6 linked regions of the Homo sapiens genome follow. The protein of the gene in region 1 purifies or fractionates together with the protein of each later gene. This does not show direct contact. Each region holds a gene or a part of one and is shown in the gene's direction. Other genes may lie near its edges.

Region 1 (4,184 bases):
CTCTGTATACTTAATTACTTTATGCTCTACCGCAACAATAATGTATTGTATATGTTTTTGTGTGTGTGTGTGTTTTCTTAGTCTTAAATTCAAAATATAAGGTAGCCCACTGGCTCTAAGCTACAAGAATCCTTATGAGTTGGGCAGTTCTTTGACAACTTTTTTTCCCACCTGGCGAAACTATCAAGGAATGTCCTACCACCAAGCGTGAGAAATTTTTGGCATTCCTGAAATAAATTCTTCTTCTGAGCCAGCTCATGTGGGCATCATAATCTCCTTGAAGGCTTTTAAAAGATTTAGATCTGAGTCTGTCTCAGATTCTCGGGCTCAGAACCAGAATTTCTCCGTCTGAGGCTACTATCTTGCTCTGGAGGAGGGAGTGAGAACTGGATCACTGGTTAGCGTGGTAACTGTTTTGGACAATTGCATAGCCACAGCCAGGAACACAGAAGGCAGAGAGGCAGCCTTGATCTGCAAGAGCTCCAGGTAATCCCAACGGGGACCCTTGATGGACAAAGGCATTCTCCCAGGCTTGGTGATGAATGTGTTCCACTTACAGCCAGACGAGACACTCACTCAGGGCTCTGCAGCAGAGAAGTTAGAGCTACAGCTTTTTTGCTTTGTGTTTTTACTAAAACTTAATTTGTTGTTGCACTTGTTGGATGGGCATGTCCCATAGGGGAAGTTTCCACTACTGTGCTCTAAACTTTGGGCTGCTTGTACCATCTTACTTATCCCCTCATTAATAATGAATTGAATAAAATCTTTAGTATATGCTAATTTCATATCTTTGCGAGAGTTACGATTTTACCTTTTCTTTTTAAAATTACCTTTTCATATTTCTATCACTCCCTTACCAGAGCAGTGAGTTTCTGGGTCTCCCTCTTAGGGGCAGACACTGTTCCATGTAATTAGAATTAATTTCTTGTTCGTAGGTAGACAGAGAAAAGCTGCCAAACTCCCAGGAGACAGGGGTTCAGATCCTGTGCTATGGCTGAGAGTGATGCCGAGGAAGACACTTCCCTCCGAGTCTTAGTCTGCCCGCCTGTGAAACTGGCTCGTAACAAACCCCTGACCCCAGGCTCGGTCGCCTTGAGCCCAAGACCTCACCCAATGCCCCCCGCCCCGCCTTCCCTCCCGGGCTCCCAGGAGGTGCGGGGACTCGGGGGGCGGCCCCTTCCTCGGGAGGCGCCCAGGTGGCACGTCGGTGCCTCAGCTCCCGGGGTCTCTGGGCTCCGCGCTGCCCACGGGGTGCCGAGGGGCCTCTGGAGGGGGCGGGTTCTCTCGAGCCAGAAAGTCCGGAGCCGCCCAGGAATTTTGGCTCGAACTGAGTGCATTTCCTCTCGGGCCGGCCGGGTGCGATCCGGGAAGGGCGGCTGCGGGCAGACGCGGCGCTGCGCTCGGCCAGGCCGGCACCATGCGGCCCCTGCTCTGCGCGCTGACCGGACTGGCCCTGCTCCGCGCCGCGGGCTCTTTGGCCGGTGAGTGGGGCGCAGGGCGCGGCAGGGGACCTGGAGCCGGGGAGACCCGCAGATGGCGAGGAAGGAATGAGCGAGAGAGACGGAGAGAGAGCTGGACACAGCAGCGAGATGGACAGAGAGGCAGATGCAGGGAGGGAGGGATGGAGAGAAAGATTGAGAGGAAACAGACTCAGAAAAAGGCAGAGAAGTAGAGCAACGGAGAGATAAAGGAGATAGGGAAGAATACACAGTGAAAAGGAAAAAGGAGAGGCTGAGACAGAAAGAGGCTTCCCCTGAACAGATATGAACTAAGATAGAAAGAAAAAGGAGTTTGAGAGACAAAAGAGAAGAAGGAAAGAGAAAAAGTGATTAAAATGGCAAGGGGTGGAGGGAGAGAGGATATTGAAGAAAAGAGAAAGATTTGAGAGAGACCAAAAAGGAGAGAGAGGGAAGCTCGATGCCCGGAGTAGAGCTGGCAAGAGAGAAGGAGCCAGGATCTGGAGTGGGAGGTCACAGCTGCTGGGTGGGGCAGCCCCGGAGGCCAGCTCCATCTCAGAGGGCCTGTGGAGGCTCAGGCCTGGCTTTATAGGACATTGCATAAGAAGCCACACTCCAAAGGATGAGTGACCCAGGCTAGCCCAGCACAGCCTTAAGGAACCAGGCAGTCGGGCCCAGGAGAAAGGCCACCGATTCACCTGCCAGGTGGCCTCAGGTGGATCTGCAGTCAGTGAAGAAGTCAGCCTCCCGGTTTCCAGGGAGCTTCTCTGGGAAACTGAGCTATGTTGGGTGGAGATGGGGGACTGGGTGGAGGTGGAGAGCTGTGCGGAGGAGAGAGGCTGTCTGGGTACTCCATTAGCTGGGTTCCTTGCTTTTCACTGTCCGCTTTCTTCCCCTCACCTACCCCTCAGGCGGGCGGATCACAAGCTCAGGAGATCAAGACCAGCCTCGCTAACATGGTGAAATGCTGTCTCTATTAAAAATACAAAAAATTAATCGGGCGTGGTGGCACATGCCTGTAGTCCCAGCTACTCGGCAGGCTGAGGCAGGAGAATCACTTGAACCTGGGAGGCGGAGGTTGCAGTGAGCCGAGATCAAGCCACCGCAATCCAGCCTGGGTGACAGAGCAAGACTCAGTTTCAAAAAAAAAAAAAAAAGAAGAAGGAAAGGAGGAAAGTATTCATGTATTAGTGTAATTTCACACTGATTTCATATATTTTTGTGCATAATCTTTCAGATTTTAGATGATATATCTTAACTTTTGATTATGAAAACTTTTGGATACAAAAAAATACAAAGTAATAGTATGTGAAAGAATCATGTAATATACTTATCAACGCTGCTTCAAGAAGTATCAGTTCATGGGCAGTTTTATCTCATCTATAGCCTCCACCCTCTCTCCCCTCCCTGGATTATTTTAAAGGAAATCCAGGCATTGTATATTTTCTTTCTTTCTTTCTTTCTTTTTTTTTTTTTTTTGAGACAGGATTTCATTCTGTCACCCATGCTAGAATGCAGTGGCACAATCTCAGCTCACTGCAACCTCCGTCTCCCGGGTTCAACTGATTCTCCTGCCTCAGCCTCCTGAGTAGCTGGGACTACAGGCACGCACCACCACACCTGACTAATTTTGGTATTTTTAGTAGAGATAGGGTTTCACCATGTTGGCCAGGCTGGTCTCGAACTCCTGGGCTCAAGTGATCCACCTGCCTTGGCCTCCCAAAGTGCTGGGATTACAGGTGTGAGCCACAATGCCTGGCCTGGCATCATGTATTTTCATCTATAAATATTTCTTTGTGTACCTCTAAGAGATAAGCACTCTTAATAAACATAACTGCAATGCTATGATCATACTCCAAAAACTGTGTGTGATTGAATATCATTAAATATTCAATCACTGTTCAAATGTCCTTGATTGATTGTGTCATATCTTTTTGCAATTCATTTGTTTGATCCAAATAAGGTTACATACACTGCATTTGGTCAATATGTCTGTTAGATCTCTTTAAATATGTAAGTCTTCTCTCCCCTTTTTTTACTTAATTTTTTGTTTTTGTTGAAGAAACTAAGTTTGTCCTGTAAAGTTTTCCACATTTAGATTTTGCTAATTGCATCCCTTTTATGTCATTTAAATACCTCCACCCCTTATATTTTCTATAAATTGAGAGCTATCTCTAGCACGTCCAACTTCCAACCTTGGTTTGTTTGTTTGTTTATTTATTTATTTATTTATTTGAGATGGAGTCTCGCTCTGTCTCCCAGGCTGGAGTGCAGTGGTGCGATCTCCGCTCACTGCAAGCTCCGCCTCCCGGGTTCACACCATTCTCCTGCCTCAGCCTCCCAAGCAGCTGGGACTACGGACGGCTGCAACCATGCCCGGCTAAATTTTTTTTGTATTTTTAGTAGACATGAGGTTTCACTGTGTTAGCCAGGATGGTCTCGATCTCCTGACCTTGTGATTTGCCCGCCTCGGCCTCCCAAAGTGCTGGGATTACAGGTGTGAGCCACTGCGCCCGGCCTTTTTTTTTTTTTTTTTTTTTTGAGACAGAGTCTTGTTTTGTCATCCAGGCTGGAGTGCAGTGGTGCGATCTCAGCTCATCACAACCTCTGCCTCCTGGGTTCAAGCAATTCTCGTGCCTCAGTCTCCCAAGTAGCTGGGATTACAGGTGTGCACCACCACACCCAGCTAATTTTTGCATTTTTTAGTAGAGACGGGGGCTGCGGGGG
Region 2 (3,500 bases), on another chromosome or scaffold:
ACAATTGGCCGGGCGTGGTGGCTCATGCCTGTAATCCCAGCACTGTGGGAGGCTGAGGCGGGTGGATCACAAAGTCAGGAGTTCAACACCAGCCTAGCCAACATGGTGAAACCCCGTCTCTACTAAAAATACAAAAATTAGCCGGGCACAGTGGCAGACACCTGTAATCTCAGTTACTCGGGAGGCTGAGGCAAGAGAGTCGCTTGAACCCCAGAGGTGGAGGTTGCAGTGAGTCGAGATGGCTGCACTCTAGCCTGGGCGACAGAGCAAGACTCTGTCTCAAAAAAGAAAAGAAAAGAAAAACAATTTAGTCAGTACTCTTGTGCTCAACTTCTATTTCATGCCTGTTTTCCAATTTCAGTATCTTAGTGATAAACATGTTTATTTTATTTATTCCTAAATTATATTTATGAACATCTTTGTAGCTGTTTCTCAGACAAAACAATAGAAAACGCTTCTTGTCTACCCCCCCCCCCAAAAAACACCCTATTTTATTTGCTAGATTAAAATGATCCCTAAACATTTATTCCTGGCTGGGCCAGGGGCTCCTGCCTGTAATCTCAGCACTTTGGGAGGCAGAGGCAGGCGGATCACCTGAGGTCGGGAGTTCCATACCAGCCTGGCCAACATGGTGAAACTCCCATCTCTACTAAAAATACAAAATTAGCTGGGCATGGTGGCGCACATCTGTAATCCCAGCTACTCAGGAGGCTGAGGCAGGAGAATCGCTTGAACCCAGAAGGTGGGGGTTGCAGTGAGCCGAGATAGCGCCATTGCACTCCAGCCTGGGTGACAGAGCAAGACTCTGCCAATAAATAAATAAATAAAACATTTATTCCTAAAGTACTTAGCTTTCCTCTGGCCTGGAGTGGACTGTTTGCTCTATATTTATCTTCATATGTTCCTTTTAGAAGCAAATATTGTTGAAATACAGACATAAGAACAAACTCCACAGAATTAATATTTTCTCTAAAAAGTGATTATGGATTAAGACACAAGCAGGATATATTTTGTGTGTTTTAATACTTCTATAGAAGACAATGGATATTTTCTAAGACAATATAGTGATTGTTTAATGAGGTAATCAGTATTTGAGCTACTAAATCCCTAATATTCCTGAAATTGCAACCAGGACTTTCCACTGGGGCCAGAGTTAGGGAAAAAAGGACTTGTACTTTATTTTGTACTTTTTTTTTTTTTTGAGACAGAGTTTTACTTTGTCACCCAGGCTGGAGTGCAGTGGCGCAGTCTTGGCTCACTGCAACCTCTGCCTCCTGGGTTCAAGCAGTTCTCCTGTCTCCGGCTCCTGAGTAGCTGTGATTACAGGTGTGCGCCACCATGCCCGGCTAATTTTTATGTTTTTAGTAGAGACGGGGGGGGGTTTCACTATGTTGGCCAGGCTGGTCTGGAACTTCTGAACTCAGGTGATGCACCAGCCTCAGCCTCCCAAAGTGCTGGGATTACAGACATGAGCCACCATGCCTGGCCTACAGATATTTTAAAGGAAAGGAAAACACGTGGTAAACTGCTCACTTTGATCTATAATACAGTTCCGTTGTATGTTTAAATTTGCCACATACTAAATTGTAGGAGACAAAGCAGGAGAAAGATTTCACCAAAAAAGAAACGAGATATGAGCCTAGGGCACCAGGGTCTCTGGAAAGACAATATTTATTTATTTATGTATGCATTTATTTATTTATTTATTTATTTATTACTTTTGAATAGGGATGGCAAAAAGTTAGCTTGAGACCAGTGCAAACAGAACCCAACTGGCCTTTATTTTATTTTTGTCCTTTTTACAAATATTTTTTGAGAATATACAAAGTACAAGGCACTGTTTTCATTTTTGAATTTGTTTCATTTTATCACACTGATATATTTCTGTGTTTCTAATTTGTAATTCAAACTTTATTTTACCCTAGGCTAAAAGAACCACACACCATGTCCAGAAGTCAAAAGTTTCTCATCTGGCTTTCTGATCTGTAAGAATTTTAATTTCTTAATATGCAAGTTATTGCTTCAGCTATATTTATTAAATACTACCCTTAAAATGTTGTGCAAGCTTTCCACATGTAATTTGTAACAAGGACAAATTGAGCACCTGCTATGTAAAATGTGTATGAATCATTTAGAAATATCTTAATTACTAATCACAAAATCTTAGGAAGAATCTTGAGAGATAATGTCCTCCAACTTCATGAGAAAACTGAGCCCCCATATACCCAGTTAAATTATTTACTTGGGGTTATCTAGCTAGTTAGTAGCAGAACTAGGTTAAATAACCATTCCCTTTAGCTTACTTGCTGGTGAAAAGAAGTGTAGCAACACAGTATATATAAAAGTGTATGTTGCCTACAGCACATTTCTCAGAAAAATTTGCTCTGCACCAAGACTTAACAGCAGAAAGGAAATCCCACCTATAGAGTGGATATCAACTTTAAAGTAAATGCCTTAATTTAGACATGATGAGTTTAATTTTAGTAAAAATCACTAAATAATTGTACTATATTTTGCTTTAAGATGGAACCTTGAATGCTTAAATATTTTAATAGTCCCAAATCACAACTTTTTATTATTTAACGCCTTTTCTTCTTATTTTATTTTATTTTATTTTATTTTATTTTATTTATTTATTTATTCATTTTTTGAGATGGAGTCTTTCTCTGTCGCCCAGGCTGGAGTGCAGTGGTGTGATCTCGGCTCACCGCTTCCTGGGTTCAAGTGATTCTTCTGCCTCAGCCTCCCGAGTAGCTGGAACTATAGGTGCCTCCCACCATGCCTGGTTAGTTTTTGTATTTTTTAGTAGAGATGAGGTTTCATCATGTTGGCCAGGCTGATCTCGAACTCCTGGCCTCATGTGATCTGCCCACCTCAGCCTCCCAAAGTGCTGGGATTACAGGTGTGAGCCACCGCGCCCAGCCTTAACGCCTTTTTCAAAGAGTCTTAAACAATTAGTTTTATCTTTTCTCTCTGTCAGTGTTTATTCTTTTTTGCTTTATTCTTGATTTAAGCTCTAGTTTTCAAGGATGCCTTTTTTTTGTACTCAAGTAAAACCAGGATGCATTTTTTTTCTTTTTTCAACCCTATTAACTGACAAGATGCATTGTTAATTGGTGTTAAAAGCACATGATTTCTAGTTTCTGTTATTTAATCATTCTAATAGACATAACAGAATAGAAATAATGTCTTTCCAGTGCAATGAATTCCTATCTTGCTCAAGAGGTTTGTATTTTGAAAGTTCACTTATCAGTGAGTTACTTGGAACAAAAAAATATTTTTTCCCTAGACATAGGATAGTGTAATTAATGGACATAATGCTTCTAACATCGCTTACAAAAGACTAATCCATTGTGTAATGAACTATGATGTTATAGAAATTGACCTGCATTTGTTGACTTATTTTAACTTGGAAAGTTAGGAACACACATTAATAGTAAGAAAGGAAAGCCAGCTCTTTCTCCTTCTTCAGCAGTGAAAATGAGGCAGCCTCTTTTCCA
Region 3 (3,500 bases), on another chromosome or scaffold:
AACCCCAAACCAGTTTTTTTTGTTTTTAAATTCTGGGCCAAAAGATAATTTTTAAAGGTAAATATTTATCTCATTCATAGGTCAACTCTGTACTCCTTGAGACGAGGAACTAGATCAGTTTTGCTTTGCATGGTATCTGGTGTGAGGAGGTACTGGGCAAATGAGTGATTTTTTTTTTTCTTTTTTTTTTTTTTGAGACAGAGTCTCACTCTGTCACCCAGGCTGGAGTGCAGTGGCGTGATCTCGGCTCACTGCAACCTCTGCCTCCCAGATTCAAGCGATTCTCCTGCCTCAGCCTCCTGAGTAGCTGGGACTATGGGCGCCCGCCACCATGCCCGGCTAATTTTTTTTCTTTTTTTTCTTTTTTTTTTTTTTTTTTTTGAGAAAGAGTCTCCCTCTGTTGCCCAGGCTGGAGGGCAGTGGCGTGATCTCGGCTCACTGCAACCTCCGTGTGCCAGGTTCAAGTGATTCTCCCGCCTCAACCTCCCGAGTAGCTGGGATTACAGGTGCACGCCACCATACCTGGCTAATTTTTTGTATTTTTAGTAGGGACGAGGTTTCACCATGTTGGTCAGGCTGATCTTGAACTCCTGACCTCATGATCCGCCCACCTTGGCCTCCCAAAGTACTGGGATTACAGGGGTGAGCCACTGTGCCCGGCCTTAATTTTTATATTTTTAGTAGAGACGGGGTTTCACCATATTGGCCAGGCTGGTCTTGAACTCCTGACCTTGTGATCCGCCTGCCTCGGCTTCCCAAAGTGCTGGGATTACAGGCGTGAGCCACCGCGCCCAGCCCAAATGAGGGATTTTGTGGGCCTTTCATTAGCCCTGGAATTGTTGGGAATGTGCATTGAAGGCATGACTGGTCTAATTTGGACCCTGAGAAGGCAGTCATGAGATGTACACGGTCTGTGTGTTACCTAGTCTTTATCCTCCAACTCCCAACCGACAGGCCAGATCTGCTGGATTGACAGAGATCAGTGGGCTGCATGGGAGGTTTCATAGCCAGATCACCCTCATACGTAAATGCCAAAGAACATAGTCATCACACCTATTTCTTCCTTTACCCAAAGAAGATACTTTATCCAAGGTTGCTAATGGCTTCCCCCTAACCCAGAAGAGTGGGTGGCTGAGGTTAACATCTGTCTTCTTCAGTGTCAGCCTTCCCGAGGTTCAGTATCAACCTCACCCTCTAAGTGTCCCTGTATGGTATCTCTTCATCTTTTCTTTACAGATTAGGAAGATGGGAGCGAGTTCTGAGCTAGCTTTTGTGGTTAAAGTCTGCTTCATCCATCTCCTTTTTCCTTTTGCTCCACCCTCAGTACAGTCTGGGCCAGGACTGTGACAAGGCATGGGGCTGGCTTTGTTTATGGCGCCATAGCTGGCCCCCCCCCTCAACTGGTACTGGTTTTCCTCTTCCTAACTCAGTGTACCTTATCAATGCTGCACTCCAGCCAGGGACTGGCCACACTGGGACTTGGTGCTTTGCCACTGCCTTCTGCTTTATTAGGACTCTGCATCCTGTATCTCTGCTTGGTTCCTAGTTCCTTTCAGCCACAGTGACCCTTCCCAAGGGAGTGTCCGCCTTCTATGGTGACTTTGGCAGACAGGCCTGAACTGTGAGGGGTATCTTTGGGCAGGCTGAAAGCACCTGAGGCACTTTCATGGAGGAAGCCTTGGAGAGAGGCATGGAAGATGGGTCATCTTGTCAGGTTTGTGCTAACAGCGATGGAGACAGGACCTCATTTCAGACTCCCGCTGCTGCAACTTCTCCTCCTCTTCGTTCCCCTCCTTTCTCTCCTCTTCCATTAGAACACTTGTCCTTCCAGAGTGAAATCTGCAGGGAAAATGTTTATTGAAATATAACCTCAAAAGCTGACAGATGAAGTCAATGCTCTTCACCCAGAGATGACGCCACAGGACTTTGGTCTCAGTGTGCTTGTGCTTTGGCAGGGGCCCTTTCAGCATGAGAGTGGGTAAGCCATCTATCTCGTGCCACACCGAGAGCCAGCGTCTAGAGTGTCAGTCAGTGAACAGGGGCCAAGAGCCAGGATGCCGGAACCAAACTGTCCCATTACCAGCAAGACTTCTCATTTAGGCCTCAGCCCCTTTGTATTGTGATTTACTGCTTCAGAGGATAGCCTTCATAGAGACCCAGGTCTCAGGTGAGTTTTCAGATTCTCTGGCTTGGGTGAGTTGTGTAACACTCTGAGTTTGTTTCTTCATCTGTGATGTAGGGATAAGAGTGTCTTCCCTGTAGGATTGTGGTGAGGCCCAGGTGTGTGGAATGTTCCTGGCACATGGTGAGTGCTTGGTCAGTGACATCTTCTAGATGACTAGCCCCATGATGATTATAATATTAAGAGCTCAGGGTACTGGCCAGTGTGGTGGCTCATGCCTGTAATCCCAGCACTTTGGGAGGCCGAGGCAGGCAGATCACTTGAGTTCAGGAGTTCAGGACCAGCCTGGCCAACGTGGTGAAACACCATCTCTACTAAAAAGACAAAAATTAGCCAGGTGAGGTTGTGAGCACCTGTAATCCCAGGTGAGGGATTATCTCCTGTAATCCTGGGAGGCTGAGGCAGGAGAATCGCTTGAACCCAGGAGGTGGAGGCTGCAGTGAGCCGAGATTGCACCACTGCACTCCAGCTTGGGTGACAGAGCGAGACTTTGTCTCAAAAACAAAACAAGGAAAAAAAAAAAAAAAGAGGGTACTGAGAAAGATCTGTTAGCTCATGTCTAGAAGGATTTTCTTCTACCCTTTTCTGCCCCAAACAATTAAGAGTCTGGCTTCTCAGCCAGTCGTGCATATAGGGTCCATCCTGATCAGTTAATGTGTCTGTTGGTATTAGAGCATTTGTAGCAATACTATTTGCTTATTTAACACTTTTTTCCAGCCACTCATTTAACAGTTTGAGTACCTGTTACGCCCAGTAACACCTGTGAATGCTGAGGCCGTTGCAGTTCTCCTGGCCTTTACATTCTGGTAGGGGAGGCAGATAAAACATGAAGAAACACATGATGTCATGTGCTTAGGGCACTAAGGAGGAAAATGGTGCCAGTGAGGGAATAGCCGCAGATGAGGCCCTGTGGCTGTGTGTGCACAGTCTGGGTGTACAGGGGATGTTTCTGACAAGGAGACATGTGAATGGATGCCACTGGCTGCTAGAGAAATGGCATGGTGTGTGTCATCATGTCACTCTGACTGTGTGACAAGCACAGACTGCGGTGGGCAAGCAGGGAGACCGGCTAGGGGCTGCCAGGGTCATCCAGGCAAGAGATGACAGGGGCTCAGGCCGGGACAGCAGCTGTGGAGATAAGAAGAGGCATGTGATTCTGGATTCACAAACTACTTTCTGAGCAACAGGAAGAATGGAGTTGCCAGATACTGAGATGGGGACAGATGTGGAAAGAGCAAGTGCTTTGGGGCAGGAGAAGTAATGTTTGGTTTTGGACATATTGAGGTGCCTGTTAAACATCCAGGTGGATAGGGGATAG
Region 4 (2,219 bases), on another chromosome or scaffold:
CATGTGTTGGTGAAGCTGGTGCTGTGGGGGCCACTCACTCGAATGACACCTGGAGGCCTGTTCCTCCCTTACCACTCCCTTCCCCAGCCCGACTTCTTGGCCTCCTGCCCAACCAGACACCTCAAACTCTGTCAGTGCCCTGGCATTCTGGCAGAGAATCCTCACCAGTTCTCACCAACCTTCCCCCCAGGCAAGGGCAGCTGCCAGCATGGTGCTCTGCCAGGACAGGTTTCCCTGAAGGAAGCTGCTCACACTGAGATGAGCCTCTCAGGGCAGGACCTCTTCCCAAGCCCTGCACACCCACCCCTGCAGCCCTTTTGGCTCCCCTTTTCCCTGTGCCTCAGCACTCCTTTCCTGGTTGCAGATAACGAACTAAGGTTGCCTAAAGGGCAGATCTGCCCTCTCCATGTCTTCGTCCTGGCAAACAGGGTCGTCTTAAAATTATGCGCTAATTCTGTATGGGAGCACTCAAAAGGCATTACTTAGAGATTGAAATTTCAAACTATCTCTAGTTTTTCAATGGAAATATATCAGCTAGGGAAAAACCATCAAGCTCATTATTATTTTTTGATCTTCAGTTGTATTTTTGTGAATATTTTAATACATCTTTTTCAATTTCTGAATTGTGTTGTGTGCTCATTTTGACCAGAATAGAAAAAGAGATATGCCTTTCACTCATATCATTCCAGCTACACCTGCCTTCTTTTCTTCAAAAATGCCGTCCGTGTGCCTGCTTCTGGGCCTTTGCACATGCTGTTCCCTGGGCCTGAAGCATGCCTTCTGCCAATATTCCTGTGGTTTGCTCTCTGACTTCCTTTAAGCCTCTGCTCAAATGTTACCTCCTCAGGGAGACCTTCTGTGATATATAAAAGAGCAAGCCCCCCACCCCACCGCCTCAGCCTTCCTGGCCCCCTCAGTTCTGCTCTAGTTACTCTATTTCTCTCCCTCTTTCCCAGTACACACTTGTCTGTTCTCCCGCATTAGAACATAGTTAACAAGAGACCAGAACCTTGCTGTTTTGTTCACTGCTCCGTCTGCAGTAAAGGGAACAGCACCTGGCACTTAGCTGCTCAATACATGTTACGTGGATGGATGAGTAGGTGGAAGCATTCATCCATTCAGCAACCTACACTGAGAACAATCCTGTGCCAAGCACTGTGCTAAGCATAAGGAAACAAAACAAGACAAAGCTCCTCAAGGAGCTTGCCACAGGGTGGAGGTGACAGGTGACATGAATGGAAGTAACTAGTAGTTACCAAATACTTGGTGTGAGCCAGGCACTTTGCATTTCTTTCTCTATTATTTCTGTGAGTTAACAGTAATTGTACTAATCTTAATCCCATTGTTTGAAAGATTATATGGCTTACCCAGGGCCACTTAGCTAATAAAGGAACAGAGAAGAGGGGCTGGGCCTGGGGCCGCTGTTTGATCCACAGCCTTGTTCCTAACCACTATGCCCTGTGGCCTCTCACACCAAAAGGAAGTACCAAACTGCTTCCTTACTCAAATAAATGTGCTGAAATGCAGTTGCAGTTTTCTCCCAGTCCCTTAGGAGCTGGTTAGAGAGTCCCTTAGGAACTTGAGAGGGTAGTGTAGTCTAGGTGGTAGGCACAGATGTCTGAGAGCTTTAACCTCAGTCTGGAAGACAATGTGGTGACTTAATTTGTTGAGAACTATGTTACAAATAATGTGTTACTAATAAAACATTGAGGCTTCGCAGTGACTTAGTAATTTTATAAATTACCATGGATTCACAATGAGCCCCTGCCTTGCATAACTTTGGGCTTGCAAAACCTAATGCGTTCTTGAGTGGGAGAAGATGAGTTACAGCTGGCAGGAACTCCCCTGGGAGTAATTCTCACATGTGAACAGCATCCATCTTGCGTGATGTGACAAAAAGAAAAGGGATGCTTCCTTCACCACACAAGGGCAGCAGTGAGTGATGGAATCACATTTTTGTCATCTCTGCAATTCCTTCCAAGTCAGCACTAAGTGTCGGAGGGCATCCACCTGCTGGGGCTCTGGTTTCCAAGCTACATAGGGGCCTTGCCAACCAAAGATGGACTTTTTATTTATGAGAGCAGCTTCCACCCCTGAGGGAGCTGAGTTGAGCAGTGTTTAGAGGAAACTCAGATACTCTCTCACCCCAGTTGGCTCCCTTCTGACCCCTCTGGGTAGTTCCTGTGCTAACTGGACTGGGGAACCACTGACTTCATCCT
Region 5 (3,500 bases), on another chromosome or scaffold:
AAGGAAATGAGCAATTGTAGAGCAGGTGAAAACGCTGGCATGGGTAGGTTCACTAAGGTGGGTGAGCAAGAAAGGACAGTGGACACCCTGCCGTCCCCCCAGCACCCCGTGGCTCATTGCTGCAGTCAGCTGGAGGAGAGGTGGCAGAGGTTGCAGAGCCAGGTCATCTCGGAGCTGGATGCTTGTAAGGAATGCACGCAGGGGGTCCAGAGGGAGGTCTCCATGGTGGAGGGCAGGGTGTCTCATATGGAGAAAACTTGCAGCAAGCTGGACTCTATCTCAGGAAATCTTCAGAGGATCAAGGAGGGGCTCAACAAGCATGTCAGCAGCCTGTGGAACTGTGTCAGGCAGATGAACGGAACGCTCAGGTCGCATTCCAGAGACATTTCTGGCCTGAAGAATTCAGTCCAGCAGTTCTACAGCCACGTCTTCCAGATTTCTACTGATTTGCAAGATCTGGTCAAATTTCAGCCATCAGCAAGTAAGTTGAATATTACAATTCTATTTCTTGTATTTCTTTGCAGCACGCAACAACATTTTAAAAATAATTTTTTGTTCATTTTTGATATTGTTGAAACTTCATGAGGTAAAAATGTGACAGTATTATGCTAGATTTTGGACAGTTCACGGAATGAACTAAATGCCATCAGTCCTACCCAAATGTGGTTCATAGATTGGTGCCTGAATTATCTGGTGCTGAGTAGCAATAAGATAAATATATATTCTCAGTGTTAATATTTAGGAACTTCTAAAATAATTTGACAGACTGGTTGCAGTGGCTCATGCCTGTAATCCCAGCACTCTGGGAGTCAAAGGAGGGTGGATCACCTGAGGTCAGGCATTCGAGATCAACCTGGCCAACATGGCGAAAATCCGTCCCTACTAAAAATACAAAAATTAGCTGGGTGTGGTGGCACGCGCCTGTAGTCCCAGCTAGTCGGGAGGCTGAGGTGGGAGAATTGCTTGAACCTGGGAGGCAGAGGTTAAGGTGAGCCGAGATTGCATCACTGCACTCCAGCCTGGGCAACAGAGTGAGGCTCCATCTCAAATAAATAAACAAACAACATTGCAGTATTTAAGCACATGATCTACGTAATTTACAAAAATATCAGTTCACAACACATTGAAAATAAAAAAGGAAAACTGGTTCTTCCCACAGATGGATAGCCAAATATTATCTGTAGAATCAGGCTGGTGAGCTCAGAGTTGGGGTCAGATTTTTGGCATAACAGCTTGGGGCAGTGGGTGTTGTCCTCTCTTCTACCTAGGGAGTCTCCTACGTACCTCTCTTCAAGCATCACTTTTTATCTGTGTCGTTATCATCTTCAGGGCTTAGCTGATGGCAGATAGGATGCTGTCATATTTGTTTCCAGACACAGGACCGTGGATGAGAGCAGTTTAGGGACAGGAAGTATCTAAAGCTCCATAGTGCCTGCATCCAGGAAGCTCAGCAGTAGTGCTGAGAGCAATGCTGGCTACACCTTAGGCACTCAACAAATGTTTGTTGAATGAATGAATGTGAATGAATGAATAATATATGTAATAAGATTTTTTTGTTACTTGTGGGTGCTAAACGCAGCCTTCTCAAAGGACAGAGCTTCTCTTGTACCTGGGTTTGTACTCTGAGACAGCCTCCGACATAAGCTAGCCCTCTCTAGTCGGAGTCTGGGCGTGAAAGGAAGGAAGAGGGAGCTCGCGTTTTTGAACACTTTCTATGTACAGCACTGGCTTGGTCACTTCAGGGGGACTGAATCCTATCATGGCCTCACAGAAAGGCTGTTTTCCAACAGGGAAAATGTGCCCAAAGTCATGTGGCTGTTCAGTGGGGGAGCCAGGATGGAAACCAGGCCAGGCTGCGTCCAAGAATTGTTTTCTTGCAGTCCAGCCATGATGACTGTGTGTCTCCCAGAACTGAGTGCAGACTTACTTGGTCCATGGGGACTTGTTGAGGGGCCTGCTTTGTGCTAGAAGGAACCTATTCCTGACCTCCCCCTCCCTGTTTTCTTTTCTCCCATCCTTGCCTTTGGGACTTTTACCTCCCTGACCTGGTTCCGCTCTGGGTGACACAGGCCCTTGCACAAGGAACTGAGATTTCATGGCCTCTGTGAACCTTGGGATTTTATGATCAAGTCCCAGATGAGACATAAAACCCAAGGCAGCGTAGGCTAGAACGTGGGAAGCAGGCGAGCTCTGGCTTGGTCAGGGAGAGCCAGGGCCAGGTCCTGGCAGCTCAGGAGGGTGGAGAGGGTCCGAGGTAGGTGGGAAAATGCCCTGGATGTCCCCAGAGCACTGTGCTTATCTTGCAGATGACGAGTCACCTAGGCCCAGGAGGACCAGGAATCTGGCCGCCACCCGAGTGTCCAGCCCACTGCACCTCACTATTTATAACCCAGCCCTTCCCCCACTCCAGGGCCACTCAGCTCCTCTATCTCTGGAATGTTGAGTAGAGGTCACAAGACCATGTATGTGTTCATAGAATGATTGTCCCTTGTGGTGACAACGCTGTCTGGTCTGTGTCTTACGATAACAGGTTGAATCAGATATTTCCAGTTGATTTGGAACTCCCTGGTGGCGTGGGAAGCTGTGTTAACATTTTCGCATTTGTCTGTTGCAGTAGGAGTTGGGGGGTGAATTCTTTTAAAAGAGAATGTGCCATACAAAACATTATCCCTTTGGACTGAACTCATTGTGGTGAGTGTAGACTGCATGGAGTTTTGAGAATTTCATTGATTGGAAAAGAGCCAGAAATAAACAAGCAGAGCCTCCTCTGCCCTTGTCTAGCATCCAGGTCTAGGAGACCTGGAACCTGAGTATCAGAGGTGCATGGGAGAATCTGGAGCTAAGGTCACAATGAAAGTGACATGTCAATCAGTTAAAAGTCAACAGAATGTTTATTGAGTGCCTACGATGTGCAAGGCTCTTGGGGGACCTGGAGATAAGTAGGCATAATCCTTATTCTAAAGCATTTGCAATCACAGTGGGAAAGAGACTCACAGGTCTGCAGAGAGATGAATGAGATTGTTTGTGGCATAGCAGTTTATCCCTTTAGTTCATAAGCTCTTACTGAGCCCCTATTATGTGGTAGGTAATGGCTGTGTGGGGGAGTATGTGGATAAAAGTCTGATGGGGAAACAAGCAGACAGATGGTCACAGGAATGGGGTGTGGTGTGCATGAGCCACCTTGAGTGTTCAGAGAAGCACCCACAGTGGAAGTCAGGGAGGGATTCTCAGGAGAGAGCCCTGAGCTGAGCCCTCAGTGTAGGTATTTACCGAGCAGAGTACAGAGGCTGATGGGGTGAGGAATAAGGTGAGATGAGAGAAGCTTCCAGGAGGAGGTGTTACTGGATCTGATTGAGGGATGGGTGGGATTCAGAAAGCAGGAGGGGAGGACATTGTGGATTAGCTATTTATTGCTTTATAACAACCCATTCCAAATCTTGCTGGCTTAAAACAACAAAGATGTATTAGTTTCCATTATTCTGTAGGTCAGGAACCCCGGC
Region 6 (3,500 bases), on another chromosome or scaffold:
GCCCCGCTCTGAAAGAGCACAGGAGGTAGAAATGTCTTCCTTTTCTAGGATATAGATGGTGTGGGTATCAAAGCCATTGTTGACAGGAAGGAGGTGGTGTTGGATAAGAGACTAAAAATAGAGCCGGAGTAGTAGTTTGAATCCAGCAAACCAGCCCTCCTTCTAAAATTCTGCAGCACGATCCCATCACGTAAGAATGTGTCTCGTCCGTATGTGACAAAGACACGGTTTTATTGACCTTAAACAAATGGGCTATGTCTGCCAGAAAAGCTTGTGCCGTCTTGACTGTATTCATAAGAAATAGAGAGATATGAATCATGCCATGTAGGTTCCAGGGCGGGGGCGTTCCCTCCCTCTCGTCCTTCGCTTTGCCTTGCATTATTGCAGACGACAGCAGTGCAGGGATGAACTCACTTTCTAGGGAGGAAGCCGCCAGTAAATAACTAAACAAAGAAGATAAGTTCCGATAATCATCGCTGTTAAACTGAGACTAAAACGAGAGATGAGGTAGTGACTGGGAGTGGAGGGGAAGTTGATTGAGGTGGATCACGAGGGATGCCTCTCTGCGGAGGCGATGCCCACATCGAAGCTCTCAGGATGAGACGGAACCAGCCGTGTGGGCAGCTGTGGGAGGACGCAGAGATGGGCAAATGTAAAGATGCGAAGAACACCAGAAATGGTGTTTTTGAAGGACAGAAAAATATGAGTCGAGCTAGAATCTAATGAGCAAAGAGAAACGAGTTAGATGTGATTTTGGAAAGGGAAGGCAATGTGTTTCTCTGTGTGCTGATCAGTCCTGAGGTGCTGCAGCAAGAAATTGACATATAGAGGTGGATACCAGAATGGTGAGGAGTTTGGAAGAAAAACCCTATGAAGAGCGCAGTCGGAACTGGGGGTTGGTTGTCTTACGAAGAGAAGACTGGAGAGAGAGCCATGATAAATGTCTGATTATTTGAGATGTGATCTACTGGAAGCATTACACAGATGATGGTTCCATAGAGTGGCCCTCAGACCATTGAAAGGGGCCATGGCTAAGGCAGAACTCACCCGCCTTAGAAGGAAGCACTTTAACCCTTGACCTCATCCATCCAAAAATGGAACGAGCAGCTTCACAAAGCTGCGCTGTTAGTTTCTAGTCACAAAGTGTTGTTAGGCAAGGACAGCTTTAATTTACTAGATTTTAAGATTTTTCAGGCCAGTGACTTTGTTTTCTGTCCATGTTATATCTCTGGCAAGTACCTGCGGGTGGATGCTCAGTCAGTGTTTACTGAAATGACAAATAAGTAAATCGCAGTAGCAACTGGACCAAGGATGGCTCAGGCAACCTCTCAGATTATACCTAATTCTAGGATTTTATAATTCTGTGATATGAGTAAAAGCAGAATTATTTTCAATACTTAACAAAATTTTATTGGGAAAAATAAAGAACTGTGAACATTGGTGAGAAGTCTTAAAAATAACTTCCCAAACTCTAGCAAATGCACCCTCACCCTTTCCCTGCAAAGCTCCCCACGCAAACTCTTCTGTGTTTCCTAAGCCATGAAGTACAATAGTGCCATTGCTGTTTGTCAGTGACATAGAAAATATTATTTAACTTTATTTAATGGGGGATTTTCAGATAATTTGGACTTCAAATATGCAGTTTTGAAAGTTGATCTGAAATACATCACTTATAATTGCCTTTAGGCTTTTAAGCAAGCATATATGAAATACATTTCATTATTTTATTCACTATATTTCAGTTAAAATTTGCTTTTAAAATATAAAGTGCCTGGGTGCAGCAAACCACCACGGCACACGCATACCTGTGTAACAAACCTGCACGTTCTGCACATACATCCCAGAACTTACAGTATAATAAAAAAAATTTTAAATAAAAATAAAGTGTCACTAAAAAAGTATATCAATAGTCTTAGCCTTATTGTCAAAGAAAAAAAATGGAAATTCTTAGACCATTTTCATCATTCAGAGTATAAAAAATGTTGACATGTACTCTATTGTACAGTGATCAAAGGCATTATTGTACATTCTTTAATTTGAGGTGATTCTTCTAATGTGTAGTACCAATTATTCTGATCTCTGCTGAAAAGTGATGACATGTGGTATTTTTGTTTAACATAGATCTAGTAAGTTGGGTAATTTAAGTAGATGGTTAAATATACTCAGTACCTGAAATAAGCTTGCGTATATGAAGCTTTGATTTATGGAACTGGCGGAGATTCAGTCAGTAACAATGTAATTTTAAAATAGCATCTGCATTGAGTGGATTACAAAGGAGACCACGATTTTCCTTCATTCATTCAACAAATAATTACATGCCTACTACGTGCCAGCTCATATTTGAAGGCCTGGGATACCACAGTAAACCTGACAAAAACCCTGCTGTTACCGAGTTCCTCATAACTACCAAAGGGTTGCAAATGAGATGTGGAAAGTTCTTTATAACCATATATATCTACAGAGCACTTTATAGTTTACAGAGCACTTCCCCAAACACCTTTAGGCCTCTAAAACCTATGAAAAAGGTGCAATAGTAATAGCAATAGGACAATAACATAATAAACATGTATTGAGTGTTTACTATGTGCCAGACCCTCCTCTACAAACTTTATATGTTTTAACTTGTGAATTTTCAGAACAACCCTGTGAGGTGTATAGTTTTATTCCGATTTTGCAGATGAAGAAATTAAGACACAGACAGATTAAATTCCTTGGCCAGAGCTGCATAGCTAATAAGTGGTAGAGGACATGCTATCACCCACACCACCAGCTGTGGAAATGGGAGTCATGTGGTCATGAGTTACCTGGGTCGCGCAGCCAGATGGAAGTGGAATTTAGGTTTTCCGATTTCAGGGCCAGTGCTTTTCTGAATGCACTGCAGCTGCCTACCTCCAAGCAATGACATTGTTAAAATGATTAGTAAGCTTTTGCTGAGTTAAGCTGTGATAACAAATAATCCCCAAATCTATGACTTACAACAAAGGTCTATTTTTTTACATATTTTGTGAGTTATATGAGTTGATAGTGGCTGTACTCCATGCTGTTTTCGTACTAGAAGGAGAAACTATTATCTCACATATTCTGCTCTCACAGCAGGAAAACACAATGGTGGACCATGCACTGGCTCTTAAAATCTTCTGCTCCATCGTAGACTGAACCGCTTCCTCTCACATCTTCTTGGCCAAAGCAAATCATACAACGAATGGGGTGGGAAATGTACGTCCCCCCACAGTGAGGGCACTAAGTGGTGGTGGTGGGGGTTGGGGACCTCTGAGGATGGGTCTGATAGAGAGGGGTTGCAAATATTTTGAGCAATTGTGATGTTTTTATATAAATATTCTTAGTTAGTGGTTTTTATTTTTTATTTATTTAGTTTTTTTAGAGACTAGGTTTTGCTGTGTCACCCAGGCTGGAGTGCAGTGGTTCAGTCATAGCTGATTGTAGCCTCACACGCCTGAGCTCAAGGGATCCTCCACCCAGCCTCCCGAGTAGCTGAGACT

Evidence for each region.
Region 2: the proteins of PLAC9 (region 1) and GDPD1 purify together in Homo sapiens (affinity purification with mass spectrometry; one large-scale study listed by BioGRID and IntAct). This does not show direct contact.
Region 3: the proteins of PLAC9 (region 1) and ABHD12 purify together in Homo sapiens (affinity purification with mass spectrometry; one large-scale study listed by BioGRID and IntAct). This does not show direct contact.
Region 4: the proteins of PLAC9 (region 1) and MPZL1 purify together in Homo sapiens (affinity purification with mass spectrometry; one large-scale study listed by BioGRID and IntAct). This does not show direct contact.
Region 5: the proteins of PLAC9 (region 1) and EMILIN2 purify together in Homo sapiens (affinity purification with mass spectrometry; one large-scale study listed by BioGRID and IntAct). This does not show direct contact.
Region 6: the proteins of PLAC9 (region 1) and TENM3 purify together in Homo sapiens (affinity purification with mass spectrometry; one large-scale study listed by BioGRID and IntAct). This does not show direct contact.

What each region holds. Positions count from the first base shown.
Region 1 is NC_000010.11:80,131,346-80,135,529, forward strand, and holds the start of PLAC9 (placenta-specific protein 9 isoform 1 precursor), read left to right. Parts: upstream 1-1,384; 5' UTR 1,385-1,417; coding exon 1,418-1,481; intron 1,482-4,184.
Region 2 is NC_000017.11:59,269,011-59,272,510, forward strand, and holds part of GDPD1 (lysophospholipase D GDPD1), read left to right. Parts: intron 1-1,925; coding exon 1,926-1,985; intron 1,986-3,500. UniProt on the Homo sapiens protein: Hydrolyzes lysoglycerophospholipids to produce lysophosphatidic acid (LPA) and the corresponding amines. Shows a preference for 1-O-alkyl-sn-glycero-3-phosphocholine (lyso-PAF), lysophosphatidylethanolamine (lyso-PE) and lysophosphatidylcholine (lyso-PC).
Region 3 is NC_000020.11:25,380,836-25,384,335, reverse strand, and holds part of ABHD12 (lysophosphatidylserine lipase ABHD12), read left to right. Parts: intron 1-3,500.
Region 4 is NC_000001.11:167,790,201-167,792,419, forward strand, and holds the end of MPZL1 (myelin protein zero-like protein 1 isoform a precursor), read left to right. Parts: 3' UTR 1-1,719; downstream 1,720-2,219. UniProt on the Homo sapiens protein: Cell surface receptor, which is involved in signal transduction processes. Recruits PTPN11/SHP-2 to the cell membrane and is a putative substrate of PTPN11/SHP-2.
Region 5 is NC_000018.10:2,892,006-2,895,505, forward strand, and holds part of EMILIN2 (EMILIN-2 precursor), read left to right. Parts: coding exon 1-481; intron 482-3,500. UniProt on the Homo sapiens protein: May be responsible for anchoring smooth muscle cells to elastic fibers, and may be involved not only in the formation of the elastic fiber, but also in the processes that regulate vessel assembly. Has cell adhesive capacity.
Region 6 is NC_000004.12:182,246,402-182,249,901, forward strand, and holds part of TENM3 (teneurin-3), read left to right. Parts: intron 1-3,500.